Homo sapiens: one gene and its partner. The protein of the gene in region 1 purifies or fractionates together with the protein of each later gene. This does not show direct contact. Each region holds a gene or a part of one and is shown on either strand. Other genes may lie near its edges.

What was found. Proteins that work in one complex are often made in the same cells at the same time.
Region 2: the proteins of ATL3 (region 1) and RTN4 purify together in Homo sapiens (affinity purification with mass spectrometry; 6 studies listed by BioGRID and IntAct, with this or other methods). This does not show direct contact.

What each region holds. Positions count from the first base shown.
Region 1 is NC_000011.10:63,626,372-63,633,401, forward strand, and holds part of ATL3 (atlastin-3), read right to left. Parts: intron 6,727-7,030; coding exon 6,655-6,726; intron 6,452-6,654; exon of another isoform or gene 5,823-6,451; intron 5,101-5,822; coding exon 4,669-5,100; intron 3,035-4,668; coding exon 2,948-3,034; 3' UTR 1-2,947. UniProt on the Homo sapiens protein: Atlastin-3 (ATL3) is a membrane-anchored GTPase that mediates the GTP-dependent fusion of endoplasmic reticulum (ER) membranes, maintaining the continuous ER network. It facilitates the formation of three-way junctions where ER tubules intersect.
Region 2 is NC_000002.12:55,040,448-55,047,477, forward strand, and holds part of RTN4 (reticulon-4), read right to left. Parts: intron 6,880-7,030; exon of another isoform or gene 6,369-6,879; intron 1-6,368. UniProt on the Homo sapiens protein: Required to induce the formation and stabilization of endoplasmic reticulum (ER) tubules. They regulate membrane morphogenesis in the ER by promoting tubular ER production.

The DNA.
Region 1 (7,030 bases):
TCTGTCTCAAAAAATAAAATAAAATAAAACAAGGCATGACTCTGAAGGTGTTTTATCATACATAGTAGTTTGTCTCATTTTATCTATGAGCCAATCTTACAGAAAGATTTCTCAAAGAATGAAAACTCTGATTCTACCATTTTTACTATAAGCAGCTCATTGAAATTATTTTTTCAAATTATCAACACTTAATTTATCCTGAAATATTTTAATAGAAAATTTTGGAAGCCTCCTTTTATATATTCATAGGAATGAGTTCCATATATTGTTAGGATTGTGTAAAATTAAAAATGCCTGCATGGAAAGCGGCAGAGCAACAGACACGACGCAAACAGGCACAGTCTGAGCATCTGAACCACAAGTAAAAGGTGAGAGAAGTAAAAGATATTATTTTTAACCTGGTTATAAATCTCCCCAGGATGATTTATAGCCAGTAATGATAATGCATCTTTTATTGAAAAAGCTGATATAAAATCATCAATTTACTGTTGAGAGAAAAGAGGCCAAAGAAAACTCTTAAGAACCCTCACTGAGAAAACTTTATAAAACACTTTCCAGAAGCAGAACTAAGAAAAAAAAAAAATGGTGAAGAGGACTTCCTCTGGATAATTAAACCAAGGTCTCTTTATAAGACCAAAACAGAAATGGTGAATTTAAATAGTAACTGAATCTTAAGATTTCATTAAATCATACATTATCACTTTTTTTAAAGTGACCTAATACTTTAGTATGAGTTTTCGACACATCACCCCTTCTTACCATTAAATTTTTTAAGTTATTCTGAAATCTATAAATTTACTTATAGAATGTATTAAAAGCTAAGTATGTCAATATTTACAGAGCCTGCTAATAGGTATGAACTTTCAGAGAGATAAGAGGTCACCTGAAAATGCACCAACATTTCAGAAGCAAGCTTTCAAGTTAACAGTCAAAGCTTGGTTGGCATCACTGATAAATGCAAGTAAACAAGCTGGAATTTTTCTAAAGTGTAACAGCAGTGAATAAAATAGCAAGAACTATTTGCAAGATGGCATATAAATATGAAACAATATGCTGCGAATTTAGGACTTACAAAAATACTTCAGTGGTAAAGTGTCAAAAGAAAATTCTTTGATAAAGAGATTACATGCGAAAAGGGACTTTTTTTCTACCTTCCATTCATACTTCATGTATGTAAAGTTTACACTCAGATCTTACCTTCATGTATATAAAATTTACACTCTTACCTCCCTCCCATAACAAAAGTTAAATTATCTTAGAAATTAAGGCTTATATACCTGAATGTTTATATAAATACTTGCAGGCAAGTTTTAAGTTTTAAAATCCACAATAATTCCAAAAGGAAAAGCAACTAACAGATAAAACTTTTATCTCCTAATCAAGGTAAATAGAAAAAAAGAACTCTTAGATACTTCTAGATATTTTTTATATTTGGGTAGGACTTTGATCCTTGCTAAGGCAAAGCTATCTTAAAGCTACCAGACTAGCCAAAGTAAAATTAAATAGATAATTCACTAAATAAAATGGGTTAATTTTAGCTTCATTATTAAGAACATTAGACACGGCAGAGAATGCAAATTAACATTCTGAATAAAGACCTTAAATCAGGTTATTAATTGCTGCTAAGCCACATGAAATTAGACATCAATTAAACGCAGTAATATTTGTATCTTCCCTCTAATCCTTAATAAAGTTCTGTTCTTATGCAGAACTCTCAAAAACAAAACCCCTCAAATGACAATTACAAGAGTTGTGTAAAACATACATACATATGTAAACCTACAGTGAACCTGACCAAGGCACAAGTTCAAGTGACTTATCAGAGGTCACATGGTTCATTTAAACTTAGCTTTTTTCTTGAAGTATCTAGCGCATTCCTTTTATTATGAGCCACTCTGGCTTTTCAAGGCACGTTTGCCTCTTTTTCTAGAAAGAAGCTATAGGGACCAAAAAAAAAAAAAAAATAGAGCAAGTTGCAACAAAACTGTCAGCCTACTGGGTAAAAACCTCACATTTCAGAGTATGGTATATTTAAATATGACATGATTTTTCCACACTATGTGGCAACAGGATTCCCTATTGTAAATTTTTTTTGAGTGTAATGACATCATTTTCAGTTAGTCTTTAGTTCTGAAGTTTCTCCAAGTTCTGTAAACTTTTAAAAAAGGAATCCTTCTTGGCCGGGCACGGTGGCTCACGCCTGTAATCCCAGCACTTTGGGAGGCCAAGGCGGGCAGGCGGATCACAAGGTCAAGAGACCAAGACCATCCTGGCCAACATGGTGAAACCCCATCTCTACTAAAAATACAAAAAAATTAGCTGGGTATGGTGGCGTACACCTGTAGTCCCAGCTACTTGGGAGGCTGAGGCAGGAGAACTGCTTGAACCCGGCAGGCAGAGGTTGCAGTGAGCCAAGATCACACCACTGCACTCAAGCCTGGTGACAGAGCGAGACTCCAACTCAAAAAAAAAAAAAAAAAAAAAAAGAATCCTTCTCAAAAGAGTAAAGTATAAAAGAAATGTCAAGTTTCACCCGAAAACGGCACCTTTCATGAGGTTATCCTCCATCCCCTCCCCATCGTGTGTGCAAAACCATGGAATCAATCTTAAAAGGCACTAAGTGGCACATAAAGAACTTAAAAGCTGCATTTCCATTTTTCCTCTAGCTTCCTCCTCCATAAAGTGCACAAAGCAGAGTAATATGAAAATAGACACAGGCTTGCATCTATAACAGCAAGGAAAAGAAATGCTTCCAAGAGAAATGGAAGTGTGTTTAATAATTTGAAACCACAGGAGAGGTCTGCTCATTTATTACAGGGCCATGTTTTAGCTCTTCCTGGATCGTCTCAGATCTGCCATTCCTCTGGATATGAACCTGTGGCCGTGGCAGAAACCCAGAAATCAGTAGGGGCTTGTTGTGTTCTTGTTTGATCTTCACGTTAAGATGCTATTGAGCTTTTTTATCCATGGATGGTCTTCCAACAACTGCATCCCTCACAGTGGCCTGAGTGGAATTACCGATATGAGAAGAAGCCTGCAAAAGTCCATTTATTCAACATATAAGTTAATAAAATACAACACAGCAACAAGAAAGTAAGTCCTTAAACTTTCAAAAACCTGTCTCCATCATCGGCATGTTACAGAAAGCAGTTGAATGAAAATGCAGGGATACAGAGAGGCTGTGGCAGCAGCTAACTCCCAAGAGAGCCAGGGGAACATCTGCTCTGTGGCTAGGGTAGGATAGGCAGCTCCTGTGGCTTCACAAGCTGCTAACCCAACTCACCTGTTCATGTTACTCAGAAAAACAAATGTATCATCTCAAAGATCTACAAAACTTGTGACCATGTCAATGTCCAAGAGCTACTGGGTTAGTCAGGTGTGGTGGCACTCGCCTGTAACACCGGCTGCTTGGGAGGCTGAGGTGGGAGGATCACTTGAGCCCAGGAGTTTTAAGTTACAATGAGCTAAGATACCAGCCTGGGTGACAAAGCAAGACCTCGTCTCCAAAAAAAATTTTATAAATAAATAAATAAGCAACCCAATAAATAAATAACCAAGCCACTGGCTTTTGGAAGATTTTTAAATAAAAAAGATACCATCCCTTTCCTAATCCAGTAGGACTCAAAACCGAACATTTTTCGTTAAGTTCATAATTTTTTCAAAGTTCTTGCTTTTCAATGAAGTAAATTAATCTAGAGGGGGTGAGAAGTGAGAATCACATAAAAATTATGTCTGAAGAGCATGTAATTAGAAGTTGCCGACCAGGCGCAATAGCTCATGCCTATAATCCTAGCACTTTGGGAGGCCGAGGTGGGTGGATCACCTGAGGTCAGGAGTTCAAGACCAGCCTAGCTAACATGGCAAAACACTGTCTCTACTAAAAAAAAAAAAAAAAATACAGAAATTAACTGGGCATGGTGTCAGGCACCTATAATCCCAGCTACTCTTGGGAGGCTGAGGCAAGAGAATCACTTGAACCCAGTGGGCAGAGGTTGCAGTGAGCCAAGATCACACCACTTCACTCCAGCCTGGGCAAAAGCGTAAAAATCTGTCTCAAAAAAAAAAAAAAAAAAAAAAGTTGCCAAAGGGGAACACAATCAGTATGTCTAAGTTGGAATGTTTTTGCATTAAAGGGCTATTTTTGGGCTGGGCACGGTGGCTCACACCTGTAATCCCAGCACTTTGGGAGGCCGAGGCAGGCGGACCATGAGGTCAGGAGTTCGAGACCAGCCTGGTCAACATGGTGAAACCCTGTCTCTATTAAAAATACAAAAACTAGCGGGCCGTGGTGGCACACACCTGTAGTCTCAGCTACTTGGGAGGCTGACGCAAGAGAATCACTTGAACCTGGGAGGCGGAGGTTGCAGTGAGCCAAGATCATGCCACTGGACTCCAGCCTGGGCAAGAGAGCACAGCGAGACTTTGTCTCAAAAAAAAAAAAAAAAAGCGGGGCGGGGGCCTTTTTAGACATGGAAACAAAATATTAAGAATAAATATTAATATCCTAAAGGATAATAAAACATACAGTCTATCAGAAAACAACAGCCAACGGAGTGGCCACTGTCTCATGTCTTCACTATGAAATTCTTCCAAACTGAGATATTTTACAACAGAAGCACAAATATCTGCCCATTATCAACCCTCAGGCTCTTCAGCAGCACCACTTACCTGCTCCAACACATATGCGGCACCAAAATCAATAGCTCCGCCCAGCTCACGATATTGACCAGAATACCTGATGTAGCCCCAGGTGAGGAGTGCTATTAACAGTAGTCCAACCATACAGTTGAACAACTGGGCTACAACCTCAAGACCTATGAAGCCAGTGAGGCCTGAGGCTATGTACAAAGCTACAATGCCCGTGAACAGCACTGCAGGGGTTCGGAAGGTGCTGAAGACGTTCTTGCTACCATTGTGCTTGCAGAAGTTCTCATATAATTCCTTGATTTCCTCCTCCAGCTCCTGCTGGTAACGAAAGCTGAAATCCTTCCCACCCATCTTCTTGGTCTTCTTAAAATGGTCCAGAGCAAGTTGTTTGAATTCACAGTGCTTCTCCTCTAGAATGTCTGGAGACAAATAAGGTTTCTCTCCCCCACAAACCTAAAAAGAACAAAGAAACAATATGTTAAAAGATCTCTTCAAAAACAAGTGCCAAATAAAACATGAAAAGATAATGAAAGGATTAGAATGTTTTAAGATGTTAACAATGTATTAATAAGTTAACTTTTAAAAGATGACTAAGACCAATAAAGTCTAGTTTCACTTCCTCTGAAAAGCACACTTAAAAAACCAGGGTGATAATATCAATTGGAAAGAGCAGTGACACTGGGACGGGTGCGGTGGCTCACGCCTGTAATCCCAGCACTTTCGGAGGCCAGGGCGGGCAGATCACTTGAGGTCAGGAGTTTGAAATCAGCCTGGTAAACATGGTGAAACTCCGTCTCTACTAACACAAAAAAAATTAGCCGGGCGTGATGGCAGGCACCTGTAATCCCAGCTACTCAGAAGGCTGAGGCAGGAGAACCGCTTGAACCCGGGAGGCGGAGGTTGCAGTGAGCCGAGATCGCACCACTGCACTCCAGCCTGGGCGACAGAGTGAGACTCCGTCTCTAAAAAACAAAAGCAAACGGTCGACTTCTGCAGGGCCCAGGTGAGAAAGGCCCACCTGTGTCCTGGTTGAGGGTCCTCAGGGTTCTTTGGGACCCGAGGATTCCTGAAATCATGGATCACCCACATACGCTTTGAGACATGCTTTAATTTTTTTTTTCTGGAAGCCCTGCGACTTCCCTAAAAATTAAATGAATTATAGAACAGATCTATGACCAATGGTGGCAGAGTCTACATAGAACTATGCTTCGTGGTGCTCTGGGGAAACCTTCTGACTTGTTGGCTATGCTATTCAGTATGGCTGTATAGCTCACTGTGCTTCTGAATACGTTGGTGGTGTTGTCATGTGTTCTGGACCATCAATGGAGCCTACAATTCAAAATTCAGATACTGTCTTTGCACAAAATCTTAGTCGACATTTTGATAGTATCCAAAGAGGTGACATTGTGATTGCAAAAAGCCCAAGTGATCCAACATCAAATATTTGTAAAAGAGTAACTGGTTTGGAAGGAGACAAAATCCTCACCACTAGTCCATCAGATTTCTTTAAAAGCTACAGTTATGTCCCAGTGGGTCATGTTTGGTTAGAAGGTGATAAATCTACAGAATTCTACAGATTCCAGTTACTATGGACCTATTCCATATGAACTAATAAGAGGACGAATCTTCTTTTAAGATTCGGCCTCTGAGTGATTTTGGATTTTTATGTGCCAGCCTTAATGGCCACAGATTTTCTGATGATTAGTAAGCATTTATTCTTTTGACTTGATTATTGTCTCCTGCTCATGTGAATTTATTACTCCCATTGAAACTATGTACTTACCAATAAACTATTTGCTATTCAAAACAAAACAAAACAAAACAAGAACAAACAAACAAACAAAGAAATGGTAATAATTAGAAGGCCCCCGTTACCAGGACAACCTGAATATAAGTTTATTGCCTCATCACTTAAAGATACATTAAGTAGGATCAAGTTGGGCTTTTGAAGTCAGCAACAATGCCCAGATTATAGATATTTCAGAATAAGGCGTATGTCCCACGTACCTCTTCCATGTTGTTATAATAAATGTCCTTGGCAGAGGCTGCAGCTGCTAAGTTGTTGGCTTCAGCAGTGGCCTTTTAAGAGAGAAAAACGTGAACTGTAAATCCTTCCTCTTTTAACATTCCTCCACAAATAACCTAACAAAAATCTTCTCTATTCCCCATTCTTCCTTTTTTATTAACCTTCTATTTTTCTAGATTTCCATATAGTTCAACTGATGAAATAGAATACACTTTTTCTGCCAAATTTTCTACCAAAAAAAGGTAGAAGTTCATATACATAGAAATATGTATTCTTATACATAAGAATCTTTAGCAAAAATTAAATCTCCAAAATTCAAGGAAAATATTATTTCCATTGCATCAATTTATTTTTTAA
Region 2 (7,030 bases), on another chromosome or scaffold:
CTTTTAGGTCACCTCCATCTACGGTTGTCAGGGCACTGAGATAAATGAACTCAATAATGGCACCTTCCATTTAGGCGAGTTTATAAATCAACCTACAAAGTTGGGGAGAAAGAACACGTAGGCAGACCTGGAATCCTTAAGTAAGCTTCTCTCTTTCCACAAAAGCAGTTCACAGATCTGTAAATATGTCCTGTAAGGCCAATCACAAAACTCCTCTGGTTTTAAGAGCAGAAAATTCTTTACAACTAAGGGCCTGTATTTTTTCCTTCATCTGCTACCTATACCTCTCATAAGTACAACCTCTATTCATCTTTCTTGTCCTCTTACTCAGCCCTAGGCCTAGTTAAAAAAAAAAAGGAATATATTAATTTTTTTCTTAATATTGAACTTCCAAGAGACCACCAATATAAGCAGCAACTCCAAACTCTTGAACAACAAAACTTTATAAACTTTCTGTATCTGTGGTAACAATTCCATCAATGAGAAAAACAAGCTATTAAAGAAATAATTATTTTTGAAAAGTAGAGGGCCACCTATGTAAAGAGACTGCTTTAAAAAAAAAAAATCCAGTATTTGGCAGCTATAGCTCCTAATACAAGAGTACAGAGAATATTTCTTTCTTTCTCAACACAATTTTTTTTTTTTTTTGGAAATGAAAAAGCAGGAAGACTTAGCTTTCTTTCTCAGTCAATTATCAATTGAAAAGAGAGAGCCAAATACCTGTATAATTCAGTATGTTACAAGGAGGCTAGAATATTTATTTTTAAAAGTCTCTAGTTCACCTAATTATATGCTAAATTTTTTTTAAATACATGTTAATAAAAACCACGTGTTTATGGAAAAATACACAATATCAACACCGAATGTATTTCAATTCTCCCCAAAATTAATCCATAAATGTAATGCAACCTACTAAAACTCCAACAGAGGGAGAGGGGACAAGATAAAAAAAATTTTAAGATGAAGTAGAAAATTATACACACATAAGATAGCCAAGAAAAATATTTATGGAAAAGCCGTTTAGCTAGTATTTAAAAATTATAGCACAACAGTCTGATACTTCTGTGTGAACTGACAGATAAATGGAAAAGCAGAGGAAATATTTCACCCATACTACAAGAATATGACAAAAATGGTACTTCAAAGTGGTTAAGAAGGATAATTCAAAATAAAAGGTATTGGAACAAATGGGAAATAATCTTGAAATATAAAATTATTTCACTACTTCACTCTCTAGAACAAAACAAACTGCAAATAAATCAAATAATTAAATGTTAAAATGAAATCATAAAAAGTATAAAAGTACTTACTAGGAGTAAACATGGGGGAAAATTTTTATGATCCTCAAGAAGGATTTTCTAAGGATTACATAAAACTCAATGACTTTTTTCACTTTTATGACTCAAAGTCATAAAAGAAAATGATAAATCTGACTACATAAAAATTTCTAAACAGAAAAACATACCATATGGTCAAAATACAAATAACAAATCAATAAAAAGTTTTCAAGACATATGACAAAAGGCTAGTTTCCTTACAATGCAGATTAAGTGAATCTACATACATGAGACCAAAAACCCAAAAGAATAGGCAAAAGCTGTGATCAGAAAAAATTTGACACCTAAGCCTATGAAAAATGACTCAAATTTAAAAGAACAATTTGCTAAACAATGTATTAGTTCACTAATATACTGTGTTGGTAAAGATATAAGGGAAAAGGTACCTTAACAGGTTGGTGGGAATAAAGGTTGGAACCATTCTTTGAATGACACTTTGGCATTAGCTACCAACATTTTAAATGCAAATATCCTTTGAAGCAGTAATTCTACTTGCACAGATTTATCCTACAACATATATAATGGCATGTATTCCCAAAGAAGTGTATACAAGAGTGTTCACAGAAATAGTATTTGTAAGAGAAAAAACTAAGTATCAACCTAAATAACCATCAATAAGGGACTGATTAAATAAAATATGGTACATCCCCAGAGTCCTCTGCATCTATTTTTGTGGAAAATAAAGTGAAAAGGATATACATGTATAAATAAATATTTATCCACAGATTATCTCTAAACAGATACTCAAGAAACTACTAACAGAGGGTGGATCTACAGAAGACAATTTGTGGAAATCTGGGTAACAGGTAGAAAGAGTTACTTTTCTGTGTATTCTTGTAGTACTGTTTGGAATTGTTACCTTGTATACATAAATAAATAAATGCTTTCGTAAGATTTGGGATTTTTATTGAGAGAAGATATTATAGTAATTCTAGAACTATACAGAATATGAAGATCAGCATCTTTCTCATTCAACAAACTGAGTGCCTATCACATCTAAGGCACTGCAATGCAGACACAATGCATACAGTCCTTTTCCTCAAAGAAAAAGGTCACAGCACCTTTCCTCAAGGAGTACACTGTCTGGTGGAGGAAAGAAATCAGTAACCATACCATTACCTTATATAGAATGATATATACTATGAAGAGGTAAGAACAGAATATTATGGAAACACGTGATGAAAGCAACTTAAAAATCAATGATCATCATTCCAAGAAACATAAATATCAATAGCTTAAATATGAAATTATCAACTCCTCCTTTGGGGTTAAAAAGGATGATGATGGCATTAGTCTGAGAAAATCTTAGCATCAGTAAAGCTGGGTCTCATCATTTTGCATACCTATGTCCTGCACTAGCTATCCACAAAGGTCACATTCATTCAAACACTACTGAGAACTATGGTTTTACCATTACAGTTCCCATCCCTAGTGCTGTCATCCTCAGAAGAACCTGATCCCTTTAGAAACAGGAACAAAAAGTCTCAAAGAATGTACCATAAGTATAGTATATCTGCAACATTTACTTCTATTTATTTAAGGGTTCCAGGGAAGAATCAAGAAATAGCCATTCAGTTTATACTTTTATCCTGGGCTAGCAAAGTACCTTAAAAAGGAACCATTAAATTGAGGCTTTGAATCAAGTTATTCTAATAAGTTGCTTGAAGGTATATTATGAAAATAAATGGCGGGGCACAGTGGCTCACACCTGTAATTTCAACACTTTCAGAAGTCGAGGTGGGAGAACTGCTTGAGCCCAGGAGTTCAAGACCAACCTGGCCAACATAGTAAGACCCCATCTTTAAAAAAATAAAAATAAGGCTGGGAGCAGTGGCTCACACCTGTAATCCCAGAATTGTGGGACACCGAGGCAGGTGGGTCACCTGAGGTCAGGAGTTCAAGACCAGCCTGGCCAACATGGTGAAACCCCGTCTCTACTAAGAATACAAAAATTAGCCAGGTGTGGTGGCACATGCCTGTGGTCCCAGCTACTCGGGAGGCTGAGGCAGGAGAATTGCTGGAACCTAGGAGGTGGAGGTTGCAGTGAGCCAAGATTGCGCCACTGCACTCCAGCCTGGGCTACAGAGCAAGACTCCACCTCAAAAATAAAATAAAATAAAAATAAAAATAAAAATATATTTAGGCTGGGTGTGGTGGCTCACGCCTGTAAACCCAGCACTTCGAGAAGACTGCTTGACCTCAGGAATTTGAGCCCAGCCTGGGCAACATGGCGAAACCCTATCTGCACGAAAAACACAAAAATTAGCCGGGCGTGGTGGTACGTGCCTGTGGTCCCAGCTAGTTGGGAGGCTGAGGTGGCAGGATCACTTGAGCCCAGAAGATGAGGCTGCAGTGAGCCAAGACTGCACCACTATACTTTAGCCTGGGTGAAAGAGCAAGACCCTGTCTCCAAAATATAAATACATAAATATAAAAGTTTTTTTAAAAAATTTTAAAAATAGCCAGCATGGTGGTGTGCACCTGTAGTCTCAGCTACCTGGGGGGCTGAAGTGGGAGGACTGCTTAAGCCCAGGAGGTCAAGGGTATAGTGAGCCATAATCATGCCACTGCACTCCAGCCTGAGCGACAGAGTAAGACTCTGTCTCAAAAGAAACAAACAAACAAACAAACAAACAAAAAAACTTGCCAGGCATGGTGGCTCATGCCTGTAATCCCAGCACTTTGGGAGGTCCAGGCAGGAGGATTGCTTCAGGCCCCAAGTTTGAGACCAGCCTGGACAAAAGTGAGACCATTGTTTTTTGGTTTTTAGATTTTTAAAAAGAAAATAACTACACATAAAACAAAGCCAATTAATGGACAATAGGTAACATGCTCCTTTTCAGAAATGTTTTTATAACATGGCAAATCCTTTAAGTTTACAATAATATAGCACTAAAATAGCATGTTTTCTAAACACTATTCCATGCAGTTATTTATCAGTGGTTCCACATATACCCATCACTTCATTTTAAAAAGGATTTGAGAGAGTTTGCAAATCACTAAAAAAAAAAAAAAAAAAAAAAAAAGACCACAAATTTGACACTCAGTTGCCCAGGAACCAATCTGAAACATAATTCACCATATCCATGAGGAGTATACTACTTATTCCCAACTTTTAAAAATAAGAAATGGCTTAACCAGAAATTATTCAGAATCACAAAAATGAAAGTGGGGAATGGACAGGGCATGACTTTCTTGTGTTTAGAAGCATCCACTTCCTGGGAACTTGGACTTTATATTAAGAACTGATACCTAATATTTAAACCATATGTCACTCAAAATCTTAAAATTTCTAATACATGCTACTACGCCAATAAAAATGATCATATAATAAATGGCTTCATGATAGTAAAAACTAGTAATTTTTAAGCCCCAACCCATAATCTGTATTTATGAGCAATATTCAATTTTATACAAATTTTCATGGCAATTAAATTTTGGCAGTCTCTGAAACTGATTTAATAAGCACTAATATTCTTTTCTTTGTCTTTACATTCATGGTTTCCAAGTCCTATCAATTCGTCTTTCATACAGCCTCTTCGTAAACTAACTATAAAAACAGATTCACAGCCAATTAAAGAAAGCGTGCTTCTTATACTCTTATATTCCTCCCTTCTATTCCATTTTCACTGAATGAACAAATAATGAAATAGTTCAGGCCCTACTCATCTTTCTCAGAACTACTGTAATAGCTTTCTAAATAATTCATCTGCTTTTCCTTCCCACCTATCTTGAATATTGTCACCAATTTTCTAATACTGCTTTCACGGTGCCTTGCCTCAGTTCAAATAACCTTCAATGGCTGTCTTCCCAAAGCCAAAAGCTCTAATTCGAGAAGGGGTGAAAAACAATAACTTTAGAAACAACAATTAAAAAAAACAATTTTGGTTTCATAATATAAATTACCAAAAGCAAGGGCAACTGGATAGCAGAGCATGGATTAAAGTGGAATGATAAAATCCAAATTCCTTAATTTGGCATTCAGTATCTTTCAGAATCCAGATCTACATATTTTCGGTCTTAATTAACCTTGGTTTAGAACATGTCCAGAGACCAGTTCGAAGTCACCCTTAATTATGTTTGCACTGCTCTCAAATCGATTTCTAGCCAGAGTTTTCTGCGCATATCCTCAAAGCCTAACTTAACCAACCACTAAGCCAAGTATTTTCCCATGAAAAATGGCCCTCAAGTGAGAGGTTTTAGTCTCACTTCAGTTACTGCATTGCGATGGAGATGCTCTGGGCACAACAGCAAACAGTAAAATTACAACTTATTAACAGATGAAAATCAGGGCTTACTCATAAATAACGTAAACAGCAATGTTAAACAGACAAGTGTCAGTGATCTAGAAACCCTCTCTTCCAGGCAGGCTAGTCTATGCTTCTAACCCTGCTCTGCACATTTCTCACCTTTGTCTCACATCAGTCCTCTCAGTAGCCCTGAATCTTCCAAACTTATTTTAGTTCCAAAATCACAATATAATTATTTAATAAGCATATTTTTATTTTTTTAAAAAGCTAAACATTTTTACCATTGCCTGTTAGAGACCCCCAATGATCTGGGTGGGTAAGGCCACCTCTTCACTCTCCCACTAGTTTTTCTCACTAGTCTTACACTAGATTCTCAGACACAAAGAGCTCATTCCTGCCTCAGGGTTTTGCCCTGAAGTTGCTTGGAAATGTTTTCTCTCTGCAGCTCAAATCTCACCTTCTAAGCCTGTCTTAGTGTCACCTAACCTAAAAAAGCCCCCATAAATCCCCATCATTCTCTATGCCATTATCCTGTTTATTTTCCTCATAACACCACTATTCTGGGTTCTTTATTTATGTGCTTATTATCTGTACTCTCCCAAGGGGGAGCATGTGTCTTGCTTATTGCTATACCCTCAAAGCTTAGAATAGATCCTGTCTCTTGGTAGGTAATCAATAATGGGTTGAATTAATGAACAAACTCTTGAATGCATTAAGAAATCCAGACACATTGAAAATGGTTAACTATCCACAACCATAATCACAATGTTCTTACACTTACTAAAAAAACTAAAGTTTCCCAATAGGTATCATCAATATGGAATTAGGGAACTCTGTAGAACAGGCAATATTCTTTCCCCATTGCCTTCCAACCTCAGCATTCCAACACACAAGATTCCAAGAGAGTGCTGTCACCCCCTGAATCCCTAATGTTCAAAGACAGAACTATTTTCTTTGTTCCCATACCAATACAAGATTAGTATGCTTTTGTCAATCATTAAACTTCCTGTGGCCAGGCGCAGTGGCTCATGCCTGTAATCCCAACACTTTGGGAGGCCAAGGTGGGTGGATCACTGGAGGTCAGGAGTTCAAGACCACCAGCCTGGCCAACATGGTAAAATCCCGTCTCTACTAAAAATACAAAAATTAGCCAGGCGTGGTGGCAGGCGCCTGTAATCCCAGCTACTCGGGAGGCTGAGGCAGGAGAATCACTTGAACCTGGGAGGCGGAGGTTGCAGTGAGCCAAGATTGCGTCATTGCACTCCAGCCTGGTGACAAGGGGGAGACTATCTCAAAAAAAAAAAAAAAAAATTCCTGTTTAAAAATATATTTCATATTTTTCTCTTACCTCAGTTTCCCTCAAGTATGTCTTTTTCATAAAGAAAAAGGAAAAGATTGAGTTACTCCTCATCTTCTAAGACCTTTAATATGGCAATTAGTGTT